2 linked regions of the Homo sapiens genome follow. The protein of the gene in region 1 purifies or fractionates together with the protein of each later gene. This does not show direct contact. Each region holds a gene or a part of one and is shown on either strand. Other genes may lie near its edges.

Evidence for each region. The genes of interacting proteins can lie anywhere in the genome.
Region 2: the proteins of ELAVL4 (region 1) and DIDO1 purify together in Homo sapiens (co-immunoprecipitation; one large-scale study listed by IntAct). This does not show direct contact.

The regions. Positions count from the first base shown.
Region 1 is NC_000001.11:50,195,851-50,199,504, reverse strand, and holds part of ELAVL4 (ELAV-like protein 4), read right to left. Parts: intron 2,077-3,654; coding exon 2,038-2,076; intron 1-2,037. UniProt on the Homo sapiens protein: RNA-binding protein that is involved in the post-transcriptional regulation of mRNAs. Plays a role in the regulation of mRNA stability, alternative splicing and translation.
Region 2 is NC_000020.11:62,909,506-62,913,159, forward strand, and holds part of DIDO1 (death-inducer obliterator 1), read right to left. Parts: intron 2,110-3,654; 5' UTR 2,108-2,109; coding exon 1,269-2,107; intron 516-1,268; coding exon 194-515; intron 1-193. UniProt on the Homo sapiens protein: Putative transcription factor, weakly pro-apoptotic when overexpressed. Tumor suppressor. Required for early embryonic stem cell development.

The sequences.
Region 1 (3,654 bases):
TGAACTTCTGACCTCAGGTGATCCACCCACCTTGGCCTCCCAAAATGGTGGGATTACAGGCATGAGCTTATATACGGATTTTTGATGCTATACACTGAATAGTTTCTTGCTTTTCATTTGGCCAGGGTTTTACTGGGGGAGATAGGAAAAGGAGAGAAAGCAAAAACTAGGGAAGAGCATGGTGTAAAGTGTGAGCTACAACTGTTTTTAAAAATAAGCAAATATTCTTGGAGATTTGAAAGTCCTATTAAAGAATAGTTCTGTATCTAACTAGAATTTGGATAATCAAATGGCTACTGAATATATGCTAAATATAACAACTCAATAGACAATATTTTTGCTATTATTCACTAAGTCAATCTTCCCTCTTGTTTAAAAACAATTAACAAGAAAAAGCCAAAAAATATCATGGTGTAGATCCTTAGACGTGCAAATCCATGTCTATTTGTAACTTGTATCATTTCTGAAGATTGTCTTTTTAATATTCTATCCTCCAACCAAGTGAGTTGACCCTGGTGAACTGACCTCTTTCTGTTTATAGGTAGAAAACAGCTAAGTATTTATTATAAGTCAAAGGTCAGGGCCAGCAAAGAGATTGCAAGTACAGCCTCTATCCTAGTTGGTGACAGTTAATTGCAGCATTTTGGTAGGAAGCGTTCTAAATCCAAATCTGGGTTCAATAGGAAAAGAGAATGCTATTATCAGCTAGTGATGTTTACTCTGGGTGGGGCAGTGGAGGAGGTGGTGGCAGGCCTACTACAGCTGTGTCTTCCCCTATCTTATCTATTTATAAGCATTTCTCTTTTCACAACATTTAGCACTACCTCACTAACATCAGAGAGGAGCAAAGGAATGAGATAGAGCTAGGAAAGATGTAAAATCCCTGGGAACAGGCAAACAGTGTGCTGGAAATGTGGAGATAATTCATAGTTATCCTCATTGATGCTGGGATTGAGATTTGAAAGGCCGGTCCTCTGATAGTGAAGTCTGCAGTCAGGTTACTTCCTCTACCATGCACCAGTTCCCAGAGTCAGGGTACTTACCATGGATGGCCAGTGAAAGAACTGGGGGTGTGATGTGGACTATTAAAGACTACATCTCTTTCCCTTGACTGTAGGAAGGGGAATTAAAGTGTGCAGCTCTACTGAGCAAGATGATGAAGACACTATGTCCCTAGCAGTGCAGTGGAGCTTATCAGAAGCACATATGGGAATCTCATGGACACAGTGACATCACACACCCAACTTTCCAAGATTCAGATTTCATACTGGGTCTGGAAAACTTTGAATCTGCATTCAGAGAGCCCCAAAAGCCTTGACTCTGGGCCCCCAACCCCACAAAAAGCCTTTCAGTGACAGGAACAGCAAGTTTAAAACACACATAACATATAACCAAGGGAGGATTTATAAGAACTGTTAAAACCTGTAACAAAAGAAACCCCTGGTTGAGGTGCACACAGATACACTTCATTCTCAGGATGTGCTCTGAAATGCACACTGAAGTGGGGGCAGGAGTTAGAAAGTCATCCACGTGTTTGTTTATCCTTTGGCCAGAGCTGGTAGTCCAAAATCTAATTTTTCTACTGAAAAATCATAAGATTGTCAACCACAATTAGCAAAATGTTCTAATTCTGATTTGCTGGAATCTGCCCTCTTAACTGAATCTTGGCATTGCTAATGCAAAACAGTTTGCTCTGCAAGTTTGCAAAACCAGCCAGCAAAGAGTCGGAGCCTTTCCCCTTAGGGGAGCCATTCAAAGGACCAGATTATTAAGGGCTTGGTAGCTGTGGCACCTGAACCATAGGAGAAGCCCACCTGCAAATAAAAGAAAAAGTGAAACACACAAATACATTTTGTGTGCCCTAAAAGAAACAAAATCAACTGAGGTCCGAAATTAAAATTAAGAATTTGACATGCTGGTGGAAGAAAAAGGAAGAATTTTTTTCTTTTAAAGTAAAGTTAGTGAATTAAAAAAAAAAAATTCTAGCCCCAGTCTGTGCCAACATGGACATCTGGCAATCTGTGGAGTTTTAATTACCTCTTTACGCCATAGGCCATATTAAGCAAATTGTCCAGCCTGCAAAGAGAAGGAGGGTCTCTGGGTTAATGCCTCACAGATGGCAAGATCGCTCAATGGAACTATTAATAAGAATGCTCCATTTTCAAAGAAGAAAAGCTCAACAACTTTCCCCACTGCTTAGGAGTCTATCCACCGGTAGTTTCCCCCTTTTCTGTCTCTAACTGCAAGTAATTCATGTTCAGGTCATTGCTAGAGTTTAAAGCAAGTGTCTAATGAGTCTCCCTTTCTTTCAAGGTCTGAATTAATACCATTCCCCCCACCTCTCAGAACATTTGTGTGGATTTTGTTTTATATTGTAGTGAAATTGTTCAAAGCGGGGGCTTCTTAAATTGTTCACCTTTTTACTATAATTAAACTTGTAAATAAAGGTCTCTGTTCCAGATTAACAATACACAGGCACACAATATGTATCAGAACAGATCTTTTCTGTTAGCCTTGCTACATTAACTAAATCATCTTACTACACACATTTTTGGGAGGCAGGGGGAGTTTGCAGGTTAAGATTTTTAAAAAGTGGCTTACTGTTTACTGCCTGATAGCACCTCCCAGCAAACTGCCATTACGCTATAATCTTCCTCACATTCACTACCTTACTTGGGGACAAGCTATTCACACCATAGGGCAGTAGTAACGATAGTTTCCACCATTAGAAGTCTGCTGGAGAGGCTTTTTACATAAATACTGCATGTGCTCTCAAGCAAAATAAAAATTAGATGACTTGGACTCTTCATGAAATCATTAACCATTTCAAATTCACAGGGCATAGGAGGACACGAAAGAGGATGATTTTTCTCCTCATGTAGCCAGATGGAGCATACTATCCTAGATAGAAGGACCTACTATTTCCCATGTGAAGTTTCTCAAAGAGAAAAACATTTTCATCAAAGGGAAGCTGGGCTGTGGTGTGGAATAAAGTAATTGTTTAGAATTTATCATGGGTAAGTCAAACATATTTTTATCTCTTGTATAATAGAGACCAGTCAAGGTCATACTGCCTTCATGGAGAGAAACCTGTCTTTTAGAAAAGTCCCAGGAGAAGGGCAATGCCCCCCTGCCCCAGGAGCTTCCTGGGGGTTGGGTACTTGAAGGAAACACTAATCAGGCTTGGACAGGATCTTCCTCCCTATCTTCCCAGAATCTACTGACTTAACATAATAAGGTTAACACCAAAGGCACTTCCCCCTCCCCTGAACTCAACAGAGTTACCTGCCGAGGGAAAAGAAGATAGGAAAAACAACTCCTTCTGGCAAGGATCTGCCTTATGGTCTATTTTTTGAATTTATTAAAAGCCACTGTCCAGCCTTAAGTCTAATCTGCTGAATGTGGTCACTGATCTGTGATTAACTCTTGTTGAAACTGAACCTTCATGTTTGGTTAAATACAGACATTTTGTTTCTACCAAAGAATCTAAAGTTTATACAGTCACAGTAGTAAATTGGAAGAGGGCTTAGAAGGGCATCTGCTCCAACTGTCTCATTTTACAGGAATGGAAACTGAGGCTCGGGGGGAGTTTTGCACAGTGATTCCTGGGGGTGGAAGCTTTTACCCTTGCCCCATTTGTCAGGACCATGGGCT
Region 2 (3,654 bases), on another chromosome or scaffold:
TAATAGTAGAGGAGGTAGACAGGGTAAGAATAAAAATAGAAAGGCCTCACCCAGGTGGAGTGAGGCAGGAACCCGGGAGAGGCACCGCCCCACATGGGTGCAGCACCCGTCCTGGGAGGAATTTCTATCTAGAGCGAGACTGAAACCAGTGAGGCCGACTGCTGAATGCTCGTCTCAGCGGACAAACACTTACAGGCTGGAAGATCTTGAGTTTCTTCTTGCCACTTGGATTTGCAGCTTTCTCAATTCTACCCTTTATCCCTTGGTCTTCGCTAGACTTCTGCTCTATTGTTCCTATACTTGTACAATCGGTGCCATCAGCATCTCCAGGTCTCCATTTAGCTTCCTGCTGATCTGCCGTTTCTGAATGAGTCTCATCCTGCACTTGCAGAATGGTGCAGTTTGGGCAGATATAGTCTTCCCCATTCCTTTCCAAAAGCCTCCCTCGAGCCTCAGAAATGCCCACACAATCGCCATGAAACCATTCTTCACAGCGGTCACAGCAAATCATAAACCTGAAATTATAAAATAACGGTATTAGCAATGGGACGTGAGTGACAAGCACTTTTCAACACATTAATAAGACAATTGGTTTTAACTTCATGAAAAAATGCAAATATACAGAAAAGTAGAGATTAAGAACGTCCTCATGCCTTTCCTTTGATTTTAACATTCAACCAAATTTACTTCACCGTTTTTTAAGAGTAGCGCATTTTAGGAGCAAACTCTAAGGCATTCCACCACAGATACCTCAGCAAGTCTCCCCCCAAAACTGCGACAATGCCTTTATCCCAGCGCCAAGCCAACAGGCTGCCTATCACCGTCTGACACCCAGTCCTAGCAGAGATCTTTTGAGCTGCCCCAATGTTTGCACTAGGACACTTGCGGTCTGCACATGCCCCTCTGCTATGTCTCCCAAGGGGCAGTCTAGAGGAGCAGTCTCAGACAGACCCCGGAGTGACGGACACATTCTCCTCCATGCCGTCTACACAGAGCCACTGGCTGCACGTGGCTCACGTGACTGGGGTGGGGCGCTATTCACCTCCTCACTTGACTGGAAACAGCCATGTGTGGCCAGTGGCTACCAGAGTGGAGAGGTGGCTCTAGGAAGTCCTTAGCCACTCTTATGTGTTTCTTTTTTGACAACTTGTTCATCTTTTCCAACAAATCGCTCATCCAGCCCAGCTTTGTAACCCTTTAAAATGAAAACAAATGGAAAATTCTGTTTGCAACCCTGGGATTTCTGTGGGTGCCCACACATGACCCACCTGTTGTTGTGAGGCTGGCGGCAAATGCAATACAGGGCGTTGGGGTCGTAACCCTCACATTCAGGCTTCGGTCGGCCCAAGTCTCCAGGCTCCTCATCTTTGATGTCCTGAGCCGCCTTTCCCTCCAACTTACTCTCTCTGTCATCTTTCCCAGCCTGGGACACAACCCCCTGATCGTTCTCGGGCTCCTGCTTACTGGGCAGGACGCCCTCCACAGTGTCACTGGCCTCGGAGCCCACAGTCTCGGCGGGACCCTCCTCCCGGCGCTTCTTCCGCAGGCGACTCTGGATCCCTTTCAGGGGCCTCTCAGTGGGCTCCTGTTCCCGCTTCCTGCGAAGGCGATTCTGAAGCTCTTTCAAGGTCAGGCCATCGCTGTCACTATCGGAGGTGTCATCGTGGTCATCCCCTCCTTTCACCTTTTCAGAAGAGGCTGGTCGTTCCTTCACAGCTGTGGAAGCAGACTGGGGGCCGCTTCTGGTCTCAGAAGCGCTTTCCACGCTGCCCTCGGAGGCTGTCTCGGCGTCTGTGGCGGGGCAGGACGTGGGCTCACCAGAATCCTCCAGGGAGACAGGCATGCTCCTCCTGCCGCGGCGCCGCGCAATGGTCAGGAACTGCTCCACGCGCTCAGTGCGCTTGGGCTGCCTCCCACTGCGCCGCAGGGACAGGCCCAGCTGCTGCTGTGGGGGTGGCGGCTCCAGTGGGTCAGCCTCCGCGTCCCCTGCGCCCTCTCGCTTGGCGATAGTGGTCCTTCGAAAACCCCATGTTTTCCTGAACTCTTTGCTGGTGGGTTTGATGGCCTTAGGTGCCTCCTCATTGCTCGGGTCGCCTTTGTCGTCCATACCTAGCGGTAAAGTGTAAGCACATAGTGACCAACTGACCACAGAACAAAAGGTGACATTGCCGCCAAACACGCGCAGCAGGGGCCACCTCCCTACAAACAGTGGAGCTCTACATAAAGCAAGTCCTTCTGACCAGTGTTTCCTAATGTGTGCTATGTGAGATGATTCAAGATGATTTGTAAAGATAATTTTAATATAGTTAAACAACTAACGTTTAGACAAAAATACAGCTAACAAATCAAATGTACAATTTCATCATTTAACTGCTCAGGACAAGGCTTCACAAGCCAGACAGTAGGGACAAATAGGAAATATTGGACAGTATAGCAGGGTAAGGATGTGAGTAAGGACGTGAGCAAGGACGCGAGCAGCTCGGAGGTGGCACGAGCTCCCCAGCACCTCCGCAGGCAGATGGGCTGCTCTGACCACAAGCACAGTGAACAAGACGCTGTGCCAGTTTGGGTGTGGCCTGCAAAGGGACCCAAGTCTGTTCTGGACTTTTGCAAGTATGGGCTGGCCACCACCATGCTGAAAAGAGGATATGAAGAAGCTGAGTCCCGACTTTCAGCTCCCCAACCAGGGGCTGGGGCCAGGAAGGATGCTATCACTATCTGGGACCCTCCATACCAGCCCTGCTGCCAAGTGAATGACCCTCACGGGCACAATGTGAGAGAACTGCCTAACTCCTGACCCAACAGATTGTGTGGTATGAAATAAACCTTGTTTTAGTCTACTGAGCTTTGGAGATATTGTTAGCAGCAAGACAACTGGGACACTTAGAAAACATGGTCAAGGCGATCACTTTAAGGTATATTTCTTTTTTTTTTTTTTTGAGACGGAGTCTTGCTCTGTCCCCAGGCTGGAGTTAGCCACTGTGCCAGGCCAGTATATTTTTTTTTCTGTATTATTTTTCACTTTCATTCTAATACATTACTAAAGAATCTTATTTATGAAACTTTTACTCTTGTTGAAATGACAAAAATCTGAAAAAGACAGTAGATACTTTGAGAATTCTTTTCCAAGCTGTCCAAGCTTTAATTACATTTCAATGCTAATGATGACTCTGATTTTATGCCATGTTCCATCCTGGGGGAAGGACTGGCATAAAATGAAAGCCTTAAAAAATATACAAAATGGGGCCGGGCCTGGTGGCTCAAGCCCATAATCCCAGCACTTCGGGAGGCCGAGGCAGGCAGACCACTTGAGGTTAGGAGTTCGAGACCAGCCTGGCCAACATGGTGAAACCCCATCTCTATTAAAAATACAAAAATTAGCTGGGCATGGTGGCAGGCGCCTGTAATCCCAGATACTTGGGAGGCTGAGGCAGGAGAATTGCTTGAATCCAGGAGGTGGAGGTTGCAGTAAGCCGAGATCGCACCACTGCACTCCAGCCTGGGCGAGCAAGACTCAGTCTCAAAAAAAAGAAAAAGAACGAAAATACAAAATGGAAAATTACTTGCAACCTGTAACCTGTGTTGTTCTTTTTGCTTCCCTCTAAATGCTGTCACTTCTCATTTTCCTGTCCAGCTAAAGATGCTGCCTGGCCG